3 separate regions of the Homo sapiens genome follow, and regions 1 and 3 are each linked to region 2. The links come from fine-mapping of genetic effects on gene expression. A gene starts in region 2. Each other region holds a variant in brackets. All regions are shown on one strand. Distances are from middle to middle.

Region 1 (8,180 bases), 120 kb before region 2:
TCTAATTCCCAGGTCCTTGTTCTAGAAGGCCGTAGGTGGACTAGACTTGTGTTGAACCTCTCCCTCCTCCCCCCAGGTATTCTTGCTGCCTTCTTTCTTTTTTTTTTTTTTTGAGATGGAGTCTCACTCTGTAGCCCAGGCTGGAGTACAGTGGCAAGATCTTGGCTCACTGCGACCTCCACCTCCCAGGTCCCGGTTCAAGCAATTCCCCAGCCTCAGCCTCCCAAGTAGCTGGCATTACAGGCCCCCACCACCACACCCGGATAATCTTTTGTATTTTTAGTAGAGACAGGGTTTCGCCATGTTGGCCAGGCTGGTCTCAAACTCCTGGCCTCAAGTGATTCACCTGTCTCGGACTCCCAAAGTGCTAGGATTACAGGCGTGAGCCACCACGCCCAGCCTAACTTGAGCATTTTCTAAGCTAGAATACTATCTCTGTGGTGTTAAGAGGAGCTTGTTCCACATACTGATCTTGTGTGTGGCAACTTTTAATTTATATCTGAGGGTCCCATCTGCTCAGGGACCAGGACCTAATCAGCCAGGTCTTCACATGGAGGTGATGAGCACTGGGGACTATGTCTGTGATGCCTCCCTCAGGGGTACCCTCACACCGGTCCCTTAGTAGCTGTAGGAAGACCAGCACAGTAGCCAGGGGGACCTGTGCTAAAGGGCATCTGCGAGGTTGCTGCCACTTGCTAGCCACTGACCTTCAGCAAGCTTCTTGACCCTTTTAAGCTTCAGTTTCCTCATTTGTAAAGTGGATGTATTTATAGTACTATCTTTAGGACTGCCGTGGGGATTAAGTGAAAGGATTAGTAAGCATTCAATAAGTGGTGGCTATTATTAGTACAGATGTCATCCATCTATGACTGAAGAGGTGGTCCAGGCCAGAGGGCACACATGGCAAAGAGGAAAGAGAGAACAACCCCCACCCAATTCCTTCTGGAACATTCCCAGCAGGACTCCACTAGGCCCAGCACTCGTCTTATAGGCAACAGGCCCAGTTCTGTTGTGTAAACACAAATACACAAACACACACACACACACACACACACACTCTCTCTCTCTCTCTCTCTCCTGAAGCCACAGTGACAGGCCCAGAACACTGACTACAAAATAAATTTAACTAAAATTGTTTTGTCTTTACTACTAACAATACATGTTTACTGTAGAAAAATTAAGAAGTTCAGATAATAAAATAAAAATAAAAACTATTTATAATGCTACCATTCAAAAATAACCAATGCGCTGTTACTATTTTGGTATATGTCCTTCCCTACATTCCTTTTTTTTTTTTTTGAGATGGAGATTTGCTCTTGTAGCCCAGGCTGGAGTGCAATGGCACGATCTTGGCTCACTGCAACCTCTGCCTCCCTGATTCAAGTGATTCATCTGCCTTAGACTCCAGAGAAGCTGGGACTATAGGTGTGCACCACTACGCCCAGCTAAATTTTTTTGTATTTTTAGTAGAGACGGGGTTTCACCATTTTGGCCAGACTAAGCCTCCAACTCCTGACCTCAGGTGATCCTCCTGCCTCAGCCTCCCAAAGTGCTGGGATTACAGGCGTGAGTCACTGAGCCCGGCCAGTTGTTTTTATTATTTTCACTGCACTGCTTTATAAATAATGCTGTGGAGAACATCACTTACAAACATTCGTAATTATTTCCATTGAATAAATTTCAAGAAATTAAATTCTTATGTCAGAGTATAGCTATTCAGCTGTTGTCTCGTAGCTCCAAATCCACTCTTTTTTTTTAAAATTTTTTTAGATCTCGGCTAACTACAACCTCCACCTCCCGGGTTCAAGCTATTCTCCTGCCTCAGCTTCTCAAGTTGCTGGGATTACACGCATGCGTCACCCGGCTAATTTTGTTTTGTTTTGTTTTTTGTTTTGTTTTTGAGATGAAGTCTTGCTCTGTCACCAGGCTGAAGTGCAGTAGCGCGATCTTGGCTCATTGCAACCTCTGCCTCCCGGGTTCAAGAGATTCTCCTGCCTCAGCCTCCCGAGTAGCTGGGACTACAGGCACATGCCACCATGTCCAGCTAATTTTTGTTTTTGAGACGGAGTTTTGCTCTTGTTGCCCAGGCTGGATTACAATGGCGCGATCTTGGCTCACCGTAACCTCTGCCTCGCGGGTTCAAGTGATTCTCCTGCCTCAGCCTCCCAAGTAGCTGGGATTACAGGCATGTGCCACCATGCCAGGCTAATTTTGTATTTTTAGTAGAGACAGGGTTTCACCATGTTGGTCAGGCTGGTTTTGAACTCCCGACCTCAGGTGATTCGCCCACCTCAGCCTCCCAAAGTGCTGGGATTACAGCGTGAGCCACTGTGCCAGGCCTAATTTTTGTATTTTTAGTAGAGACGGGGTTTCACCATGTTGGCGAGGCTCATCTCGATCTCTTGACCTTGTGATCCACCCACCTCAGTCTTCCAAAATGCTGGGATTACAGGCGTGAGCCACCACGCCCGGCCTTTTACTTTTAGTAGAGACTAGGATTCACCATTTTGGTCAGGCTAGTCTCGAACTCCTGACCTCAGGTGATCCACTGCCTTGGCCTCCCAAAGTGCTGGGATTACAAGTGTAAGCTACTGTGCCTGGCCGAAACCCAGTCTTTTTACCCTTTTTTTTTTTTTTTTTTTTTTTTTTTTAGAAACAGGGTCTTGCTTTGTTTCACAGGCTGGAACGCAGCAGCAAGATCATAGCTCACTGCAGCCTTGAACTCCTGGGCTCAAGCCTTCCTCCCACCTCTGCCTCCTTAGTAGCTGGGACAACAGGCATCTAATTTTTAAATTTTTCGTAGAGATGGGGTCTCGCCATGTTGCCCAGGCTGGTCTCCAACTCTTAGGCTCAAACAATCCTCCCACCTTGGCCTCCTAAAGTGCTAGGATTATTAGCTGGAGTCACCGTGCCCAGCCCACATGCACTCTTTGTAGTTGGCTTTGTGATTCTGGGGCTGGCACTGCAGAATCTTTCCTTTGGCAGCCCGCCCTCTCTAGGGTTGCCAATAGGGGGTGCTGCAGGAGAACTGGAAAACTGAAGGAGAAACAAGGGACTTAGGACCTTGCACTTACTGTCAGCAGTAGCAGTTGGTTCCAATTTTCAGCTTTGTCTCGTACCCCCAGAGCTAGCAACCGTGCACAACCCCCGAGAGAGACACCAGCACCTACTGGCCAAGGGCCTTCCACAGAGGACTGGGTCCTAGCTCCGTCCAAGCCCTCATCAGGGCAGCTGGGTTCTGAGATCCCCAGGCTCTTCCCTTGGGTCCCCAGACTGAGGGATAGAAGATGGCTACTTCCTGCACCTACTATTTGTTATCCCAGTGCTTTTTTTTTTTCTTTTTTGAGACGGAGTCTTGCCCTTTCTCCTAGGCTGGAGCACACTGGTGTGATCTCAGTTCAATGCAACCTCTGCCTCCTAGGTTCACTCGATTCTCGTGCCTCGGCCTCCTGAGTAGCTGGGATGACAGGCGCCGCCCGCCACACCCAGCTAATTTTTGTATTTTTAGTAGAGACGGGGTTTCTCCATGTTGGCCAGGCTGGTCACAAATTCCTGATCTCAGGTGATCCACCCGCCTCGGCCTCCCAAAGTGCTGGGATTACAGGTATGAGCCACCGCACCTGGCCCCGATAAAAGCATTTTTAAGGCTCTTGGTGTGGGCTGCTAAACTGCCTTTCAGAAAGGCTTTAAATTTGCATTCTCATGAGAGTTTCATAGCACTAAATCTGCACACTGGCTATAGGGTAGATTAAGCAGGTTTTTTTGCAGGTTAGCTTACTTCTCCACAACCATGTTTGTACCAGGTATTTTCAACTTAAGAAATAAATTTGACAGGTGAAAAGTGGTATTATTATTATTATTATTATTATTATTATTATT[ATTT/T]GAGACGGAGTCTTGTTCTCTTGCCCAGGCTGGAATACAGTGGCGGGATCTCGGCTCACTGCAACTTCTGCCTCCCGGGTTCAAGCAATTCTCCTCCCTCAACCGCCCTGGGACTACAGGCACCTGCAACCATGCCCGGCTAATTTAATTTTTTTTTCTATTTTTAGTAGAGATGGGGTTTCACCATACTGGCCAGGCTGGTCTTGAACTCCTGACCTTGTGATCCGCCCGCCTCGGCCTCCCAAAGTGCTGGGATTACAGGCATGAGCCACCGCACCCGGACCAAGAATATGCATTTTTAACAAGCTCCCTGTTTCACCCACACTTTGGAAAGTGGGTTATAGGATAGTGTTAAAAAACAAATGCTGTAAGTTCAAAGGTAAAATGAACCAGATAATTCCATTCAGATAACACTACCAACTTGTGCTCTTGATACCCTGGGTCTCGGTGCCAATCATCTGACTTTCAGTAGTTCCTGCTGAATCATCAGAGACCAGTAGGTGGAATGGTTGTCCTATTCCTAACTACTCAGGGCAAGAAGAACCAAAAGTACATCCTCTGCAGGCCACAGGTTAGTAGGCTATACACACAGGTAGCAGGATATTAGGTAACAGGCTTAGAGCAACGTCGTCCACTAGCTTTAGATGACCTTACCTAAGTTGGCCTGCCATGTGCTACACTGTGTTCCAGCAACCTACCTGTATAAAACTTCATCAGGGAAGGTACCAACAACTTGGTGGAGAGAGGATGGTTCTCAATCATTTCAAAAAACTTCTGGGTTCGTGGCTGAACAGCAGGGTTGGTCATAAACATGACTTCTACCAGTTTGGCCACCAAATATGGGTTTCGGATGTAGTTCTGGTTGCACAACATCACAACAAGGAACATCACAATATCCTGAGTACAGGGCTCATAAAGCGCCTGGGGAGAGTATCTGAACAGAGGCAAGAAGAGCAAGAAAGAGACCGCTGAGAAACTGCTGAGAAACTCATCTTGGGTGAAGGCTGGTGTCAGTAAGTGAGGAGGGGAAGGCAGGATAAGTAGGTTTGGGAGTGCCCTTGAACTCATTCAGTTTACAGTGACTTTTTTTTTTTTTTGAGACAGAGTCTCGCTCTGTCGCCCAGGCTGGAGTGCAGTGGCGCGATCTCGGCTCACTGCAAGCTCCGCCTCCCAGGTTCACGCCATTCTCCTGCCTCAGCCTCCCGAGTAGCTGGGACTACAGGCACCTGCCACCATGCCCGGCTAATTTTTTTTGTATTTTTAGTAGAGATGGGGTTTCACCATGTTAGCCAGGATGGTCTCGATCTCCTGACCTCGTGATCCGCCCGCCTCGACCTCCCAAAATGGTGGGATTACAGGCATGAGCCACTGCGCCCAGCCTATTTTTTTTTTTTTTTCTTGAGATGGAGCCTCGCTGTGTTGCCCAGGCTGGAGTGCAGTGGCACAATCTCGGCTCACTGAAACCTCCGCCTCCAAAGTTCAAGCGATTCTCCTGCCTCAGCCTCCTGAGTAGCTGGGACTACAGGTGCCTGCCACCATGCCCAGCTAACTTTTGTATTTTTAGTAGAGATGGGGTTTCACCATGTTGGCCAGGATGGTCTTGATCTTTTGACCTCGTGATTTGCCCACCTTGGCCTCCCAAAGTGCTGGGATTACAGGCATGAGCCATTGCACCCAGCCTACAGTGACTATTCACACTGTAACAAGACAGATTTAAAACCAAACATGGTTACTGGCTGTAGCATGTTATATTAACTATAAACAAAACCTATGATCAAATCAGATAAACTTCACAAAAGATCATCACTACCAAAACATAAAAATTTTGATAGTTTTTTTTTAATCTCTGCTGAAAATGAGAATAAATGAAATTTTTCAAATAGGTGTCTTTTGTATCACTGTGCATAGAACAAATTTTAAAATGTGACTTGAGTTGCTTAAATTCCAAGGTTGGTTTTTCAACAAATAAACCACGTTTTTGAGTCACTTTTAAAATTTCATACCAATCAAAATCACGTGTCACCAATGATTTGGGTTTTTTTGTGTATGTTGCCCAGGTTGGAGTGTAGTGGCATGATCTCTGCTCATTGCAACCTCTGCCTTGATTTGGGCTTTTTTTTAAAGGCAGCTTTTATGACAGCAATATTAACTTGCTCCATTTACTTTTGGCCCTTATTTTAAAATCATTTATACTAATTTTGTTTTTTTCCTGTTGTTTGTTACAAAACTTTCACAATTTGTATTCTGTGACTGGGGACCTATACTATTTATTTATTTATTTTTTAAAGAGATGCAGACTTGCTGCATTGCCCAGACTGGTCTTGAACTAGGCTCAAGCAATCCTCCTGCATGTCTGGGACTACAAGCATGAGCCACAGTGCCCAGCATGACTTTTACTTTTCACAATAGACTTCACATACCACTCCCTCAGCTAGTCATAGGTGCTATCATGGTGCCAAGGGATTGAAATTGTAATTCTTCTAACCTGTAATGTTTTAGAAATAAAATGTTAATTTGATAAACCAAATAAGGATTTGAAAAAAAAATTAAAACCCTACAATACCAGTTAGAAATTCAAACCATTTCTTGGTAAGCATTCTCCAATTTTACAATTGAGACAAATTTTAGTACAAAATATAGATGTGGATATTTCTGGTTTTGGGATGTTCATTCAGACATTTATAAACTGTTTCCTCCTTCTGTTGCTCAGAAACACATATTTAACTATTAGAAATTCAACTCAATTTTCAAGGAATACATTATCTGCACTGTTAATCCTGCCTCTGTCTTTGAGATATTATTGGAATTGGACTGATGCCACAGTTGGATTTATTTTTTCCAGTCTCTAGGCAGCATTCAGTTAAAACAGTTACATCAAATTTCAGGCATGAAATGGAGGTTTGCAACATAGCTCAGAATATTATACTATTATGCATAAAAACATATTAGAACTATGTAAAATATTAAAGGCACTTACTGTACAATAAAAAATAAAAATTCTGCAACATCTTCTACATAAAACTCAGGCAACGCTGCAAATACCTTGGGGACATCTGAATTTAAAGGCAGTGTTATACTGTCAAAGAGAAAAAAAGGACAATTTATTAAATGAAATTATGGTACATCAAACTACAAGGAGTATTACATTACCATCGGATAAGTATTTCATTTGGGGAAGAAAATCATTCTGTAATACTATGTAATAAATATGTAGGCAAAGAAACTACAACCAGAAATGAACAGGGAATAATGAAGACAGTGCATATGCAAGGGTATGTGTGAAATGTTTTCCTTTTCTTGATTTCTTTTTTTTCTCCCCTGAGATGGAGTCTCACTCTGTCACCCAGGCTGGAGTGCAGTGGTGCAATCTTGGCTCACTGCAACCTCCACCTCCCCAGTTCAATCGATTATCATGTCTCAGCCTCCCGAATAGCTGAGATTACAGGCACGTGCCACCATACCTGGCTAATTTTTGTATTTTCAATAGAGACAGGGTTTCACCATGTTGGCCAGGCTGGTCTCGAACTCCTGACCTCAAGTGATCCACCCATCTTGGCCTCCCAAAGTGCTGGGATTACAGGTGTGAGCCACCACACCTGGCCCTTTTCTTGATTTTTTTTTTTTTTTTGAGACAGAGTCTCACCCTGTCACCCAGGCTGGAGTACAGTGGCGTGATCTCGGCTCACTGCAACCTCTGCCTCCTGGGTTCAAGCAATTCTTGTGCCTCAGCCTCCCGAGTAGCTGGGATTACAGGCGCCCACCACCACACCTGGCTAATTTTTGTATTTTTAGTAGAGACGGTGTTTCACCACGTTGGCCAGGATGGTCTCGAACTCCTGACCTCAAGTGATCCGCCTGCCTCAGCCTTCCAAAGTACTGGGATTACAGACGTGAGCCACCACGCCCAGCCTTCTTGACTTCTTGCTAAGGTTAATGCAATAAGTAAAATGGGAAGGAAATAAAAAGGTCCTATTTGGTCATTTTGTGCAACTCAAACGGAAACAACAGAGCTACACACATTTTTTTTTTTTTTTGAGATGGAGTCTTGCTCGTCACCCAGGCTGGAGTGCAGAGACGTGATCTCCGCTCACCGGAAGCTCCGCCTCCCAGGTTCACGCCATTCTCCTGCCTCAGCCTCCCGAGTAGCTGGGACTACAGGCACCCGCCACAGCGCCCAGCTAATTTTTTGTATTTTTAGTAGAGACGGGGTTTCACCGTGTTAGCAAAGATGGTCTCGATCTCCTGACCATGTGATCCACCCGCCCTGGCCTCCCAAAGTGCTGGGATTATAGGCGTGA
Region 2 (8,180 bases):
ATTGGCCAGGTGTGGTGGCATGAGCCTGTAGTCTCAGCTTGGGAGGCTGAGGTGGGAGGATCACTTGAGCCCAGGAGGCAGAGGTTGCAGTGAGCCAAGATCATGCCATTGCATTCCAGACTGGGCGATAGAGCCAGACCCTATCTCAAAAATAAACACACCACCTACTCACAGCACCACCTTGAGATACGAAAAACAACACATGAGTAGATTATAGAATTAATATAATGTAAATAATGATGCCTTGGAATGTAGGTTCCTGAAGAGAATGAACTTAGTCATGGTTCTGCAATGAACCTATAGGCAGTGAACTATAGGGCAATGAACTCACTGTAATACACTATATAAATAACAAACAACAGTGAAGTTAAAGTACTCTACTTAAAAGCACAAGACTACCGGGCACAGTGGCTCATGCCTGTAATCCCAGCACTTTGGGAGGCCGAGGCAGGCAGATCACCTGAGGTCAGGAGTTCAAGACCAGCCTGACCAACATGGAGAAACCCCGTCGCTACTAAAAATACAAAATTAGCCGGGTATGGTGGCGCATGCCTGTAATTCCAGCTACTTGGGAGGCTGACGCAGGAAAATCGCTTGAACCCGGGAGGCAGAGGTTGCAATGAGCCAAGATCGCGCCATTGCACTCCAGCCTGGGCAACAAGAGCGAAACTCTGTCTCACAAAAAAATTTAAAAAGCACAAGAATTCTAGGTGATCTATGACAGGGACCAAAAAGTGCACATAATTTAAAAGTTCCTAAAGCTACCAGTCTGGTTATACCAGCCTTTTTCACGGACTGTATAATCATACATTTTCATTTTGTTAAAATATGAAACTCTGCCTTACCTAATTTCCTAAATTAGATTAAAAGATCACCGCCTTGCCTGTTTTAACCCTGAAATATAAGCTTGAAGTTTCAATAATATAAGTGTATTATTTTGTAATCAAATCAATGTCACCTACCATATCTGACACAAGTTTTCAACTACAGAGTAACAATACAAAGGCAAAAGCTTTGGAAATGTCTCATGAGAACTGCTTACCTAACCTCAAAAATTTTTAATTGAATTAAAAAGAAAAACTTCAAAGATATTTTTCCCAAAATAACTATTTGTCTGGCTCCCACTTTGGGAGGCTGAAGTGGGAGGATCGCTTGAGGTCAGGAGTTTGAGACCATCCTGGGAAACATGGCAAGACCCCCGTCTCTACAAAAAAAAAAAAGATTTTTTAAATTAAAAACAAACGAATATTATTTGTTCTAGGTTCTGCTGAGAGTAAAATTAACAGTTATTGAACCAGCCCTTTGTGTTCTGGACAACTAATTTGTTGAAGATAATTTTACATTGATCCTGTATTAGTGAATTTAATTTTTTTCATTTATTTTAATATTCTGTTGACCTTGAAAAAAGTTTATTCTATTTCTTCCACAAAGGTTACATGTGTTCCTCATATGGTCACAAAAAAAAGTTACACCTTCCTCAAGGACTGATGAAAGTGAAGAGACACATTTTAGATTATACAATATCTTCACTGGTCTGTAATGCCTCACTGGTTTGAAAAGAATTTTTTGGTGAAAACTCAAGTATGCAAAAGCCTCTAAACCAAGGACTATTAACAGATCATCAAAAAAAAAAAAAAAAAGTAATTTATAGGAGTAAAGGACTACTAAAAAACTACCTCGGCCGGGCGCGGTGGCTCACACCTGTAATCCCAGCACTTTGGAAGGCCGAGGCGGGCGGATCACGAGGTCAGGAGATTGAGACCATCCTGGGCTAACACGGTGAAACCCCGTCTCTACTAAAAACACAAAAAATTAGCCGGGCGTGGTGGCGGGCGCCTGTAGTCCCAGCTACTCGGGAGGCTGAGGCAGGAGAATGGCGTGAACCCGGGAAGCGGAGCTTTGCAGTGAGCTGAGATCGCGCCACTGCACTCTAGCCTGGGCAACAGAGCGAGGCTCCGTCTCAAAAAAAATAAAATAAAATAAATAAAAAATAAAAAAAAATAAAAAAACTATCTCTGGCCGGTCACGGTGGCTCACGCCTGTAATCCCAGCACTTTGGGAGGCCGAGGCGGGCAGATCACAAGGTCAGGAAATCGAGACCATCCTGGCTAACACAGTGAAACCCCGTCTCTACTAAAAACACAAAAAAATACAAAAAACTAGCCGGGAGTGGTGGCGGGCGCTTGTAGTCCCAGCTACTCCGGAGTCTGAGGCAGGAGAATGGCGTGAACCCGGGAGGCAGAGCTTGCAGTGAGCTGAGATAGCGCCACTGCACTCCAGCCTGGGCGACAGAGCGAGACTCCGCCTCAAAAAAAAAAAAAAAAAAAAAAAAACAGTATCTCTGCCTTAAGAGAAATTACTCACTAGAATTAACATTAATGAAAAACGGGGGAGGTAGAGAAACTTTTAAAAAACCACATAAAACAGGCCAGGCGCGGTGGCTCACGCCTGTAATCCCAGCACTTTGGGAGGCTGAGGCGGGTGCATCACGAGGTCAAGAGATGGAGACCATCCTGGCCAACATGGTGAAACCCCATCTCTACTAAAAATACAAAAAATAGCCGGGCGTGGTAGCGGGCGCCTGTAGTCCCAGCTACTCAGGGGGCTGAGGCAGGAGAATGGTGTGAACCCGGGAGGCGGAGCTTGCAGTGAGACGAGATCGCGCCACTGCACTGCAGCCTGGGCGACAGAGCAAGACTCCGTCTCAAAAAAACAAACAAACAAAAAAAAACCCACATAAAATAAAGCGATTCTAAGGAGATTTCCTACCGAATGAAAGAAACTGTGTAATATTCTCTTCACTTAAGATTACATTTCTGCTGTATTCGAAAAAAACAAAGTAACGCCGAATGGGCAGTCCTGATTTTCCAAACCAAGTATCCAAGTATCACAATCAACAAAATCATTTGCTTCCTTTCCTACCTGACCCTTAACACACCACTGCGTGTCCTATCCCAGGAGAATTTCAGTCCCTAAGTAAACACACTAAGTACTCTGTAGCTAAAACTGGAGCATGGAAGTCTTGTAGTACAATCAACTTGATGGATGACTGCTTTCCTAATACTGTAGGGAAGTTTACATGATGAACCAGTGAAGAAATGTGGAGGTAGGCTAAAGAGGGTATGGCCAGTAGGGGTCCTGAAAGGGAAGCTCCTAATTTGCAAAAAGGAAGAGAAAAGGCAGTAGAATCATAGGAAATTCCTTGTACCCTAATTGCCACTGCTTTTTGGTTGTTTTTTTTTTTACAACAACCTAATTTATTAAACAATCTTTAAAACATCAAGAAGTAGATCTGTATAACTCCTTTAAGAAATGAGAACAGGAGAGAGTTTAGAAAGTCATTTGCTTCCACTTGCTTCCCGTTCAGTCTCTGCTACAGCAAAACACAAGTTTGAAAGATTCAAGAAGTAGGAAAAGATAGAATGTAACAGAAGAATGCCAGAAGTCATTAGTGGTCTATTAAGTACCAGAATATAACTGGAATTCTCTAAACTGTGGAGAAGATACATATTTTGTTAAATATCAAAGAATCTGTCTGTAAACCACCCCTCAAGCAAAAATATATGTTTAATCAAGCTTATACAGTGCAATAACCACACATATCTGGAATTTCAAATGCTTTCTTTAAAAATATTCACCCACCATACATTCTCATTCCATCCAAAATTGTTCTTTAAATTCCTGAAGACACAGACACACACACACTTTAACTTCATGTAAATCTCGCCCTTCTTGTTCGCATACCCTGAAGAAAAGAATAAACACCTCAAGATGCTCTCTCCTCTTGTTCATACCCTAAAAGAACACTCGGAAAGAAGCAAATGGAGTTCAGAATGAAGAAAGAAGGCAACAGAATAAAGGAGAACAAAACCAGAGACCCTATCGGGGAGTCACGTTATTCTTGGAAAATATCATCTCCGTTCCTTCTCCAAGCCCAAAGGCCAGACAGCACTGGCGCAATACCATCCCTGTCCAAAGCGCTAACGAGTTGCCAACTAATCCCTCAAGGTGTCCCCCAACCTCCTCACCTCATCAGCGCTCAGCTCCTCCATCGCTTTCCTCTTAATGGTGAAAGGCGTTAAGGAGAGATCCTTCTGTTCTCGAGACCACGGCGGGAGGAAGGAGAGTGGAAGGTGTCTATCAGGCTGTCTGGTCCCCCGAATGGGGGAGGTTTCAGAATTGCATAGTCAGAGGTTAAAAAATAAGAACACGAGAGGCACTAAACTGCCTTGGCTTCGGTCACTCCAGTCGCCCCACAGACTACTACAGCCGCTTGTTCCCTGAGCAGCCTCCTTTGGCCGCCACTGCTGCTGCTACAGGGTTGTCTTAAGGCGCCACTTATTACCCTCTGCTTCCCAGGTTACCCAGCTAGGCAGCGCGGTCTCCAGTTCGTCTCGTGCCCCGAGCCTGCTGTTTCTTCGTGATAGTGGCGCGGTAGCTGCGTTCCTACAGCAGATCCTGCTCTCCTTCCTACCCTTTGCTCCTGGCGGGAACTGGTCGACTGCAGAGTGGATACCCCGAGGTAAGGCGACCCCACAGCCGTCCTGGCAGAGCCCAGCACTGTAAGGGAAGCCCCTCCCCTCCCAAAGCAGGCCGGCCACGCCCCGCCTCCACGCCGGAGCCCGGGTAGGGGGGAGGGGGAGGATGGGATGCGCGTAGCTCTCGCTGGAAGAGTAAATCCTCCTACCCCTCCACCCCTACTCTTTCCCCCTCGCCCCACCAAGTATTATTCATCAAAACAACAGGGCGGCCATCTTTGAAAGGGATCACGTGACCCCCGTCAGGGAGGCGGGGCTTCTGGCGCCGGGACGTGGCAGCCAATAGGCCGCGGGCGCCGCGCCGCCGAGTTCCTCTCGCCTGCGTCCTCTCCCCGCCTCCGTCCCACCCCGTCCCGCGCAGCCGCGCCGGACGTGGGGAGGGGCAAAGGGAGGCTGGCGGCTGGGCGGGGCGTTGCCACGGCGACCGCGCTGGGGCTGCGGGCGCGGCGGGCCTGAGCCAGGTAGGCTGGCAAGGGGAGGGACGACTCCCAGACTCGCGTCGGGGAAGATCCACCAGAAGGTGGCGCTGGCCCGCGGCCCGGGGGCCCGCCGCGCCTCCGTTGTTCCCAATCGCCTGCTTTTCTGTGACTTGGGGGCCTAGAAACACCTCATCGCTCCCACTGGACTGTGCGCGCCCGCCGCCTAAGCGAGGGAAAAGAAAACGGAAAACGTCTCCTTGACCCCGGGAGCGTGATCTACCGTATTGAGCGCTCATTTTCTGAAACATCTGCCACACACTCTTCCACCTCCTCCAGGAAAGCCCAGTTGGAAGAAAACTCGAACACAAGAACTCCCATTCATTTTATTTTACCTTGGCCTTTTAGAGATACTTCCTGGGTTTTTTTTTTTTTAAGTGTGTTCAAAAAGTATTGGTAAAATTTGAAAGTATAAATGGATGAGAGACCCAAATCACTGAATTGTACACAGCAAATGCAAGGAAGACGTTTGGAGTCAGTGGGGGAAAACCATCCTCCGGTGCACAAGAATACAAATATTTGGCCGGGCGCGGTGGCTCACGCCTGTAATCCCAGCACTTTGGGAGGCCGAGGCGGGCGGATCACGAGGTCAGGAGATCGAGACCATCCTGGCTAACACGGTGAAACCCCGTCTCTACTAAAAAATACAAAAAATCAGCCAGATGTGGCGGCGGGCGCCTGTAGTCCCGGCTACTCGGGAGGCTGAGGCAGGAGAATGGCGTGAACCCGGGAGGCGGAGCTTGCAGTGAGCCGAGATCGCGCCACTGCACTCCAGCCTGGGCGACAGAGCGCGACTCCATCTCAAAAAATATATATATATGTATGTATATATATATTTATAAAATATAAATCTAAGTTGAGCGATCAAAGTAACAGTACCATGAAATTCCAGATTTTGCCGCTGACGAAGACTATAAGTGGATTGGATGGCTCACTAAGCCATAAAGACTGCATTCCAGAATTAAGAGTTACAATGTATTTGCTACATGCTTAAAATAGGAACCTGACTACTAGATATGTAAGGAATTTGTGAGTAAAAATATGTAAGGAATTTGTGAGTAAAAATAAATCACTGCTGGCTTTGCATATTATCTGCTCTCCAGGAAAGGAATTCTGTGTAAGCCAGAACTTGAACCCCTGGTGACATTGATGTTAAAAGTTTACTTTTTTTAACCTCATTATTGCCATCTAATTTACATACCATACAATTCACCCAATTAAGGTGTACAGTGGTTTTATTATGTTCACAGTTCAGTCATCCTCACTGTCCAATTTCAGAACATTTTCATCATCCCAAAAAGAAACCCTCAAAGCCATTAACAGTCACTCCCGGGCTGGGCGCAGTGGCTCACGCCTGTAATCCCAGCCCTTTGGGAGGCCAAGGCGGGTGGATCAAGAGGTCCGGAGTTTAAGACCAGCCTGGCCAAGATGGTGAAATACAAAATACAAAAATTAGAAGGGCGTGGTGGCGGGCACCTGTAATCCCAGCTACTTGGGAGTCTGAGGCAAAGAATTGCTTGAACCCGGGAGGCAGAAGTTGCAAGGAGCCGAGATCGTGCCACTGCACTCCAGCCTGGGCAACAGAGCGAGACTCCGTCACAAAAAAAAAAGACTCCTGCAGGATAACTACCTTCTGTCTTGGTGAATTTGCCTATTCTGGACATTTCACATCAGTGGAGCAATACACCGTGTGGCCTTTGGGGTTTGGCTTCCTTCACTTAGCATATGTTTTCAAGGTTCACGCATATTGTAGCATATATCTGTACTTCATTTCTTTAATGCCAAATGTATCACTGTATTGCTGTAGCGCATTTTGTTTATCAATTCATAGTGATATTTGGGTTGTTTCCACCTTTTGACAATTATGAGTAATGCTGCTATAAACATTCATGTACAAGTGTTTGTTTGGACATATGTTTTTATTTTTATTCCTTTTAGGCATATACCTAGGAGAGGAATTGCAGGATTACATGTTTGACTTTTTGAGAAACTGTCAAACTGTTTTCCAAAGCAGCTGCACTGCCACCAGCAATGTGTGAGGGTTCTAACTTCTCTACATCTCTACCAACAATGGTTTTTGTCTGTCTTTTTTATTGTAGCCACACCAGTAGATGTGAAATGGTATCTCTTTGTGGTTTTGTTTTTCATTTTCCTAGGAGCTAATGATGTTGAACATCTGCTTAGGTTTATCTTCTTTGGACAAATACCTATTCATTCATATTCTCTGTTCTTTTTTTTTTTTTTTTTTTTTTTTGAGATGGAGTCTTGCTCTGTCACCAGGCTGGAGTGCAGTGGCGCGATCTCAGCTCACTGCAACCTCCACCTCCCAGGTTCAAGTGATTCTCCTGCCTCAGCCTCCCAAGTAGCTGGGCCTACAGGCGCCCACCAGCATGCCTGGCTAATTTTTGTATTCTTAGTAGAGATGAGATTTCACCACGTTGGCCAGGATGCTCTCGTGGATCTCTTGACCTCGTAATCCGCCCACCTCCGCCTCCCAAAATGCTGGGGTTACAGGCATGAGCCACTGTGCCCGGCTTTTTCTCTTTCTTTTCTTTTTTCTTTTTTTTAAGACAGAATCTTGCTCTGTCACCCAGGCTGGAGTGCACTGACACAATCTCGGCTCACCGCAACCTCTGCCTCCTGGGTTCAAGCGCTTCTCCTGCCTCAGCCTCCCGAGTAGCTGGGATTACAAGCATGGGCCACCACGCCCGGCTAATTTTTGTATTTTTAGTAGAGACAGGGTTTTGCCATGTTAGCCAGGCTGATCTCAAACTCCTGACCTCAAGTGATCCACCCACATCGGCCTCCCAAAGTGCTGGAATTACAGGCGTGAGCCACTGCACCTGGCCCTCTGTTTTTTTGTGTGTGTTTTTGTTTTTTTGTTTTGTTTTTCTTTTTCCCTCTGTTCATTTTTAATTGGGTTGTCTTCTTTTTTTTTTCTTTTTTTTTATTTATTTTTTTTATTGATCATTCTTGGGTGTTTCTTGCAGAGGGGGATTTGGCAGGGTCATAGGACAATAGTGGAGGGAAGGTCAGCAGATAAACAAGTGAACAAAGGTCTCTGGTTTTCCTAGGCAGAGGACCCTGCAGCCCTCCGCAGTGTTTGTGTCCCTGGGTACTTGAGATTAGGGAGTGGTGATGACTGTTAATGAGCATGCTGCCTTCA
Region 3 (8,180 bases), 74 kb before region 2:
AAGTAATTACTTCACATAATAGAAACAGAGCTGCATCCTTCTGAAAACACAATGTAAATGTGCCTAGGGATTACACGTGCATCCGATCTGTGCAGACTGAATCCCATTTTAAATGCACTAACAAAACTTGCTCTTAAAGCGACTCTGTTTCAGTTTCTTCTATAATTACTCTCCCATTTACTGACTTCTCAAATGCAGCCTTTGGAATTTGCATTTTCTTTCTTTTTTTTTTTTTGAGACAGAGTCTTGCTGTGTTGCCCAGGCTGGAGTGCAGTGGTGTGATCTTGGCTCACTGCAACCTCTGCCTCCCGGATTCAAGTGATTCTCCTGCCTCAGCCTCTCTAGTAGCTGGGATTATAGGCACATGCCATCATGCCTAGCTAATTTTTGTATTTTTAGTAAAGAAGAGGTTTCGCCATGTTGGCCAGGCTTGTCTTGAACTCCTGACCTCAAGTGATCCGCCCACCTCGGCCTCTCAAAGTGCTGGGATTACAGGTGTGAGCCACCGCGCCTGGCCTTGCATTTTCTAATAGCAAGGCAAAGTCAGAGTTGTGCAGGTTTAGGCACTATAAATTCATTAAACAAATGTTGCTAATGGATGTTCTGTGTTCTAGGCACTGCTGTAGGTCCTGGAATAGTGCACGGAACCAGGCGGATGAAGAACGACGGTGTGCGTGCATGGGTGCGTGTGTGTTCTATATAATGTTTGAGACAATGAGGTCAGTGGCCACCCTCTGATAGACCTGAGGAGAGTGAGGGAGCCGGCCATACAGCTGTCTAGTGGGGAGAGTGGTCCGAAGGGGAGAAACAAGTACAAAGGCCTAAGGCAGGAGGGAGTATTACGTGCAAAGAACAGGAGTCCAGTACATGAGTTAGGGGAAGTAGACAAGTAGAGGGAGATTAAGTTAGAATGGGGCACGTATGTGCATGTATGCTTGGTGTGGGGGTGTGTGTGTAGCGCGTGGTGTGTGTGTGTGTAGTATGTGGAGTGTACGTGAGATGCAGGGCCTTGTAGACCATGGTCAGAGGCTTTGGATTTTACTCTGTGTGAGAAGGGAAATCACTGGGGGATCTTAGGGATAGATATGGTGGAAAGACTGTGTGTGTGTGTGTGTGTGTGTGTGTGTGTGTGTGTGTGTGTGTGTGTCAGAGACAGAGAAAGACAGAGAGAGACAGAGAGAGACAGAGAGAAGAGAGGGACAGGGTTTCACTCTATCACCCAGGCTGGAGTGCAGTGGCATGATCACGACTCACTGCAGCCTCTAACTCGTGGGCTCAGACAAGCCTCCCACCTCGGCCTCCAAAGTGATAGGATTACCTGTGCTTGCCACTGTGCCCAGCCAGAATGATTTCTTTTCCACTGTTTCTATGTTTCAACCCCAAGCAGTGACAATCAGCAAAAACAGGAGAGTCAATGTCAACGTTTTTCACTATTCACTAATTTTCCCTTTCTCTACTCATATAAGGCTTGTGACATTCAAGATTTGACCTCCTTCACTGAAATATTTACAGTTAAAAAACAAACACAAAACCACCAAATTTCTTTCTAGTCATCAACTTCCTAGGAAACAATTAGAAACATTTTCCTCCGGATAACTTCTGCGGTACCTTTACCATGGGGTAATTTTTTTTTTCAGATCAACTTCCAGCTTTTATTTATTGATTTATTGATTTTTATTAACTTTTATTTTAGGTTTGGGGGTACATATGAAGGTCTGTTACAGGAGGTTTGCTGTACAGATTATTTCATCACCCATGCATTAAGCCCACCACCCAACAGTTATCTTTTCACACACGGTAATTCTCACTTCACTCATTTATGCCACTCGCGCAAAAAGCAGTTCTTTATATCTCAAACAGTTCTTTTCTCAGAAGTCTGCAAAACATTACAGAAGGAATGTTTTACCTTTTTAAAATTAATCCTTATCATCACCCCTATAAATACTTAACATATAAATGTATGTCCCAACTACTTCCAAAAAGATTTATAAGACATCGAATCCACTGGGCCAGCAGATGGAGAGAGCGATCCAACCCCTGATGATTCTTTCTTCTATGACATTAGTCTTACCAGGCAAGAAGTGAGTGTTAAAATTGCTTACTTCAGAGTAAAAAAATTCTGGGAAGATCAATGAGAAAGGGGGAAGGATAAAGTACTATTTCTTTGCTGACTGCTCAAAGTAACAAGGTTTTGGCTGGACGCAGTGGCTCACGCCTGTAATCCCAGCAATTTGGGAGGCCGAGGTGGGCGGACCACCTGAGGTCAGAAGTTTGAGACTCTGGGAGGCCGAGGTGGGCAGATCACCTGAGGTGTGGAGTTTGAGACCACTCTGGCCAACATGGTGAAATCCTGTCTCTGCTAAAAATACAAAAATTAGCCAGGTGTGGTGGCATGCACCTGTAATCCCAGCTACTTGGGAGGCTGAGGCACGAGAATTGCTTAAACCCAGGAGGTGGAGGTTGCAGTGAGCCGAGATCGCTCCACTGCACTCCAGCTTGGGTGACAAAGCAAGACTCCGTCTCAAAAAAAAAAAAGTAACAAGGTTTTTTGCTAGCTCATCTTGGCTCTGACCCTACTTAGAAGAACCCTAAGTTCTTCTACTTGTTTACATAGTTATGTCATGTATTTTTACCCATGCTTTGGCATTCTTTTTTATATCAACTAAGAACCTATAAGCTGCCAAAATCTGGATGATCACAGTTCACTGTAACGGCCAACAAGGGACATATCAACTGACTGGGATGGCATTTTGTAATTAAGGAGTGAAATGCTGGCACTTCCCTGCCAAAGGAACCGAGTAGATGCACAGACTCTCGGCAGCAAAAACAGTAGTAAGGAACAAGAACAAACAAGACCTATTTGGGCAGAAATGGAAAAGTGGGTGGCAGCACGGTGCGGTGGTGAACATGAGTCTGGATTCAGGATGCTCAAGTCTGAATGCATTTCTATGATTTTGACCCTCTTGTCTGTCCCCCCGGCCCCCCCGTTCCCCCTGCCACTTCCTCACAGCAGGCTACAGCGAGGAGTAAAGGGGCTGATACATGGACAGAGCTGACACCACATCTGGCGCACAATGCTCCATGAGTATTTGCAGCTATTTTTATACACTTGGTACATTTTATTCCTCCTAGTAGG[G/A]AGAGAATTTAGATCTGAGGCAAGGCTGGGGTGTTAGAAGTCCAGAAAGAGAGGTATTAGTAAAAGCAGCACACAATCTGATACGGTTGTTAGAGAAAGTCACAACTAAATAGGCCAGGGAGAGAGAATTTCTCCCACAGAAAATTTACAGTAAAACAGGTAACACAGCACTTTTACCATGTGGAAACTGGTTCCTAGGAAGGATGCCTGCTTTATTACTATAATCATGCAATAGGATTTTATCTACGTGAAAAAGACACTTTCACCTTTGGGAAATTTACTTGAGAAATGGTGATAAAATGTTCAGCGTAATACAAATATCAACCTTCCTGAATCAATATTCAACCTTGCATCAACATTCCTCTGTCTCTTTACGTATTCTCTAATGATTCTTCTGAACACCATCGAATTGAATGAAGTGTACCTAACTCCTACTGCAGTCTCTATTTATAGCCTGGAGTTATTTTTGAACAGTGCTGGGCACAAACACCAACTCAGTCCACAGGAAACTTCAATTTAAGAGCAAAATTGTAAGACAATGAGTCAGAGGATTAGAAAGAAGGTGCTATTATATTCTCTTGCTCAAAGTCACCTACACAACCCAAGTAGTGCTTTTCACTCGGTTTCCAGGGGTAAACATTCAGCAACATCCGGAACTATGTTTCAGCCTCTGCGGTCATTTCAAAGGCTCTTTAAACAAATGGGGTCTGGCTTCACTGAGGTCCAGGAGGTGCTAAGAGAAATTTAAGGCTAGACATGAAAGCAAAGTCACAGTTATGCAGATGGTATGACCTCATATGTTCTTCGATGGATTGCCCAGACTGAGCTCAATGGGGGTGAACAGGGGGGCGGTGGAGGCTGGGAGGGGGTGGGAAGGGAGCACGCACGCACACACACACACACACACACCTCCCCCAAATCCCAGCCCCTCTCCCGTTACTAAATAGCAGCAATTCATGCAACTGTACTTAAGAAAACATGCCTCAGAGAGTACAAGTTGTCACATCTGGTAGTTCACAATAACATTCTCGCAATAGATAAATGAAGGGTCCCTCATTTTAGATCTAAAGGTGGATAAACTTGATGACTGATCTTTAATCTGTTTTCATGCTTTTGAAAAATGATTATACATAAAGTTTTCCTCCAAACTTGCCAGGCGACAACTCTGAAAATTCTGGGGCCAGACACAGTGACTCACTCCTGTAATCCCAACATTTTGGGAGGCCAAGACGGGCAGATCACTTGAGGTCAGGAGTTCGAGACCAGCCTGGCCAACCTGGCAAAACCCTGTCTCTACTAAAAATACAAAAATTAGCCGGGCATGGTGGCGGGTGCCTGTAATCCCAGCTACTTGGGAGTCTGAGGCAGGAGAATCACTTGAACCCAGGAGGAGGAAGTTGCCGTGAGCCGAGATTGCGCCATTGCACTCCGGCCTGGGCAACAAGAGCAGAACTCTGCCTCAAAAAAAAAAAAAAAAAAGAAAGAAAGAAAGAAAAAAAGAAAATTCTCCTATGTGCTACTTTATCCCATGAGAAGGTCTGAACACATCAATATACTCTGGAGCCCACCTCATTTGACCCTATCCTGCCTGGATTCAAAGCACGCCCCTTGTTAGAGCTTATAGAAGTTAGTTCCTAAGCATCTACGCACATGCAGGGGTAAGACTCCATTCCTCTGATACCTGGACCCAAACTGGACACAAGAAAAATCATCACCACCACCACCACCTTCATCATCACCATCACCATCATCATCATCTTCTTCTTCATCTTCTTCATCACTACTGTCCCCAGAAAGTGCGAGGAAGAGGAAGGAGAAAGGATTGTCGTACATACTACCACAACAAAAGCAAAAAAGGCCATCAGAGAACAAAGAAAAAACAAGACGGGGAGAAGCTTTTGCAACTGCTGTCCTTTTAAATAAACCATACACTAAAACTTTTGGCCACTGACATGCAGAAACATAATTCACCTAAATTATAGAAACACATACAGGTACATTTGAGAGAAGGGGCCACTGGATTAGTGGAATTCTGATACTGCTTCCTTCTAAGAGACTGAACTTACATATAACTAAAACTCAACACGTCAGGACATGAACCGACCCACCCCACTCACCAGAAGTAAAAAACACCAGGCCCAGATTTGCTCCCACACCTGCTTGGTCTGATAGCATTTCAACTACCACTGGCAACAGGACAAAAGGCCAAAAAGGGTTCCTGTGTGCCCCAACTCTCAAAGGGAAGAAAGGGATTCACAATAGAATAGAGCAACCCAAACTTTCCAGCATGATTAGAGCCTGGCAGAAGCATGGACTCAGAGTACGTGCCTACCAAACTAGTTAGCCACACAGGTTAATAACCCAAAACAACAATTTAACAGAGTCAGTGTCACACAGCACTTCTTCCAAACCGTGTTAATCTCCTTTCCCTGCACCGCAAACACACATGCAACTCTCCTGTGGGATAAATACCTAGGAGAGATCCTCAGGGAGGAGGGGCGTCTGCTCGTGGCACTGGGTGAGGCGGGTGGTAGGGGTGGACCCGTGCTGCTGGGCCTCTGTCTGGAACTGCTGGCGGGCACTGCTTGGGGGCTACTGGCGAGGGCAGGGGGACTTGGGGAGCTCGACAGAATGGAGACGCCTGAGGACGCCCATGGGTGAGTGACAGTGTAGGGGCGATACCGCGGGGATGAAGGCTGGCTTCCCGCAGCAGTTCCAGAGGCTGCACTGTGAGGACTGAGGGGAGTGGAAGGCACAGCCAACTGGCTGGCTGCACGGGAAGGTGAGGCAAGAGACGGGCCCATCACGGGAACAGAGCTCCAGAAACTGGGAGTGGGAGCCGGACTACTTTCATAGAGGCTAAATTAGTTGAGAAAGGGAGGAAAGAAGAGAAAAATCAAAGAAAAACTTGAGATAACTAACTAAAACAGAAAATATCAAGCTTTTAAAGGAGAATCATTTCAGTTCAAGTATATCTAGCAGATAAACATCTAAATAATTATAATCTAATTGCCCTATTGATCTAGAGGCTATACTTACAAGACGATAAAGTCCCCATTCGAAGAATGATGTAGTATACACAGCCAACTGCTTCTAAAATTTCATCTAGCAATATCTTAACCATAGAGAGCCAAAAAATAATAATCTAGAAAAGAGAATTCCACTTCCAATGACTAAATCCACCTCCCCAAATATGATATATGCCATACCCTGTATGACACTGATTAACACTGTCAACAAACATTCCCTTCTCCTACGTAGTTCACAGTTATTTTACTACCAGTAAGATGTGCAAAGAGAACCACACTGACCTAGACAAAGAGCTGGCACCAAAGGAAGCCACGCTGCAGAACATGGGGCTTGTTCCTGGATTGGAGCCAGTGTTTAGCAAGAGATTTCTGTCTGGTGACCGTGCTGCTGCAGCAATTGGCTGTGATGTGGCTGTCAGACTGGCAAATGGGTTTTCATCTCTGGTCTGAGTGGACATCATTAGCACTTCCATTAAAATCTGGCCAATCAAGTCCTTAAAATCGGAGAATACTGTTGGAAAGGCAGAACAAAGAACAGGTTACACACAGTTCGAACACAGGTTACACAGCCCTTGAATAAGCCAGCTGACCCCAAATGGTTCGATGCAGTATCCTGGATTAGATTCTGGAATGGTAAAAGGATATTAGTGGAAAACCTAAATAAAGCCTTGTGTTTAGTTAGTAGTAATTTCTTAGTTTTGACAAATGTACCATGGTTATATAAGATATTAACGTCAGGGGAAACTGGGTAAAGTATATATAGGAACTCCCTGCACTAACTGAAACTATTCCAAAATTAAAAGTTTATTAAAAAGAAAGTTGGGGTACAGTCATTGAGAGTTACCGCTGATGTATATTAATTGTAAAAAGAAGCTACTCCCAACTATAGAGGTTACTTTATTATACTACAAATGCAACTGGGTTAATATTTCTTAGTCTAGATATGTTTTATAGATAGTAATAAAACTATTAAGTCCAAGGTTCAAAAGATTTTATGAAGGGTCCAACATCTAGTCACCATGTGGCTTTCAGGAGCAAATGCTACATTCTAGCTTCCTTCTTATTCTTTGCAGCTCCCAGTTGATTTACTGTTGGTCTTTAGATACATTTTAAATACCACTAAACAAAAGTTTTAACTCATGGAAATTTTATCTGATTTGGTTATTTAAAATTGCCACTTACATGTGTAAGACAGAGTTGCCACTTAACATGTGTAAGACACTTGTTTTAACAAAAGTTTTAACTCATGGAAATTTTATCTGATTTGGTTATTTAAAATTGCCACTTACATGTGTAAGACAGATTTGCCACTTACATGTGTAAGACAGAGAATCTTAAGATTTATAATAAGAATAACAAGTAGCAGAGTTTCAAATACATGGTCTGCTCCATTAGCAGAGTTAATAAGTAAAATCAGAAATAGTCTTATCTATCCTCCAGAAATACAAAGGACTTTTTTTTTCCCTCCTCAGAAGATAGGCAGCATAGAAAAGAGAAAGGTGATCTCCTTGATATTCACGCATCCATTTAAAATCTATCTATTGAGGGACTATTTTGTGCAAGATATCCTTCTAGGGATACATCAATGAGTAAAACAGACAAAAATCCCTACCATGAGGGAAGTTACATTCCAGTGATAGGCCAAAAAAACCACTCCAGCACACCTCCCATACCTCTTCTGCGTTCCAAATGACTACTGTAAAGAAAAAGGATAGTGCCCTATGATGCTGATATCTTGCTAAGAGTTTTATTATTTTGTTACAAGCTTGGCCTCTTAAAGTGGAATATCAGAAACACAGCAAAATGTCATTATGTTCTATCTTGCTAAGCAATTTAACCAAATAGACCAATTCCACCGTCTATACATGGCTTCATAGGCACTTAAAGCAGGTATAGCTCATACAGAACACTTCTCTCAGGATCCCTGGAGACCACCCACTATATCTATACTTCATAAGAGGAGGTAAGGCCAGGCTCGGTGGCTCAAGCCTGTAATCCCAGCACTTTGGGAGGCC

What was found. PIP is the estimated chance that this variant, and not a neighbour inherited with it, causes the effect.
Region 1: its variant is the best candidate, but not a certain one, in a credible set for the expression of UBE4B in whole blood (INTERVAL, PIP 0.55).
Region 3: its variant is the best candidate, but not a certain one, in a credible set for the expression of UBE4B in whole blood (TOPMed, PIP 0.50).

What each region holds. Positions count from the first base shown.
Region 1 is chr1:10,147,962-10,156,141 of GRCh38, reverse strand. It overlaps UBE4B (ubiquitination factor E4B), which reads right to left. Exons shown (of 28, transcript NM_001105562.3): 20 at 6,860-6,958; 21 at 4,581-4,816. Among named protein-coding and RNA genes, the nearest start is that of KIF1B, 59 kb to the left of the region's middle. RefSeq lists a silencer at 788-989. The variant ATTT/T (reference allele first, on the strand shown) is at 3,880.
Region 2 is chr1:10,029,543-10,037,722 of GRCh38, reverse strand. It overlaps UBE4B (ubiquitination factor E4B), which reads right to left and starts at 4,765. Exons shown (of 28, transcript NM_001105562.3): 1 at 4,029-4,765. The coding sequence starts at 4,052. RefSeq lists enhancers at 3,898-3,947, 4,339-4,993 and silencers at 4,508-4,727, 4,758-5,147.
Region 3 is chr1:10,104,012-10,112,191 of GRCh38, reverse strand. UBE4B (ubiquitination factor E4B) reads right to left here. Exons shown (of 28, transcript NM_001105562.3): 6 at 6,448-6,676; 7 at 5,609-5,995. Among named protein-coding and RNA genes, the nearest start is that of UBE4B, 75 kb to the right of the region's middle. RefSeq lists an enhancer at 2,968-3,468. The variant G/A (reference allele first, on the strand shown) is at 3,137.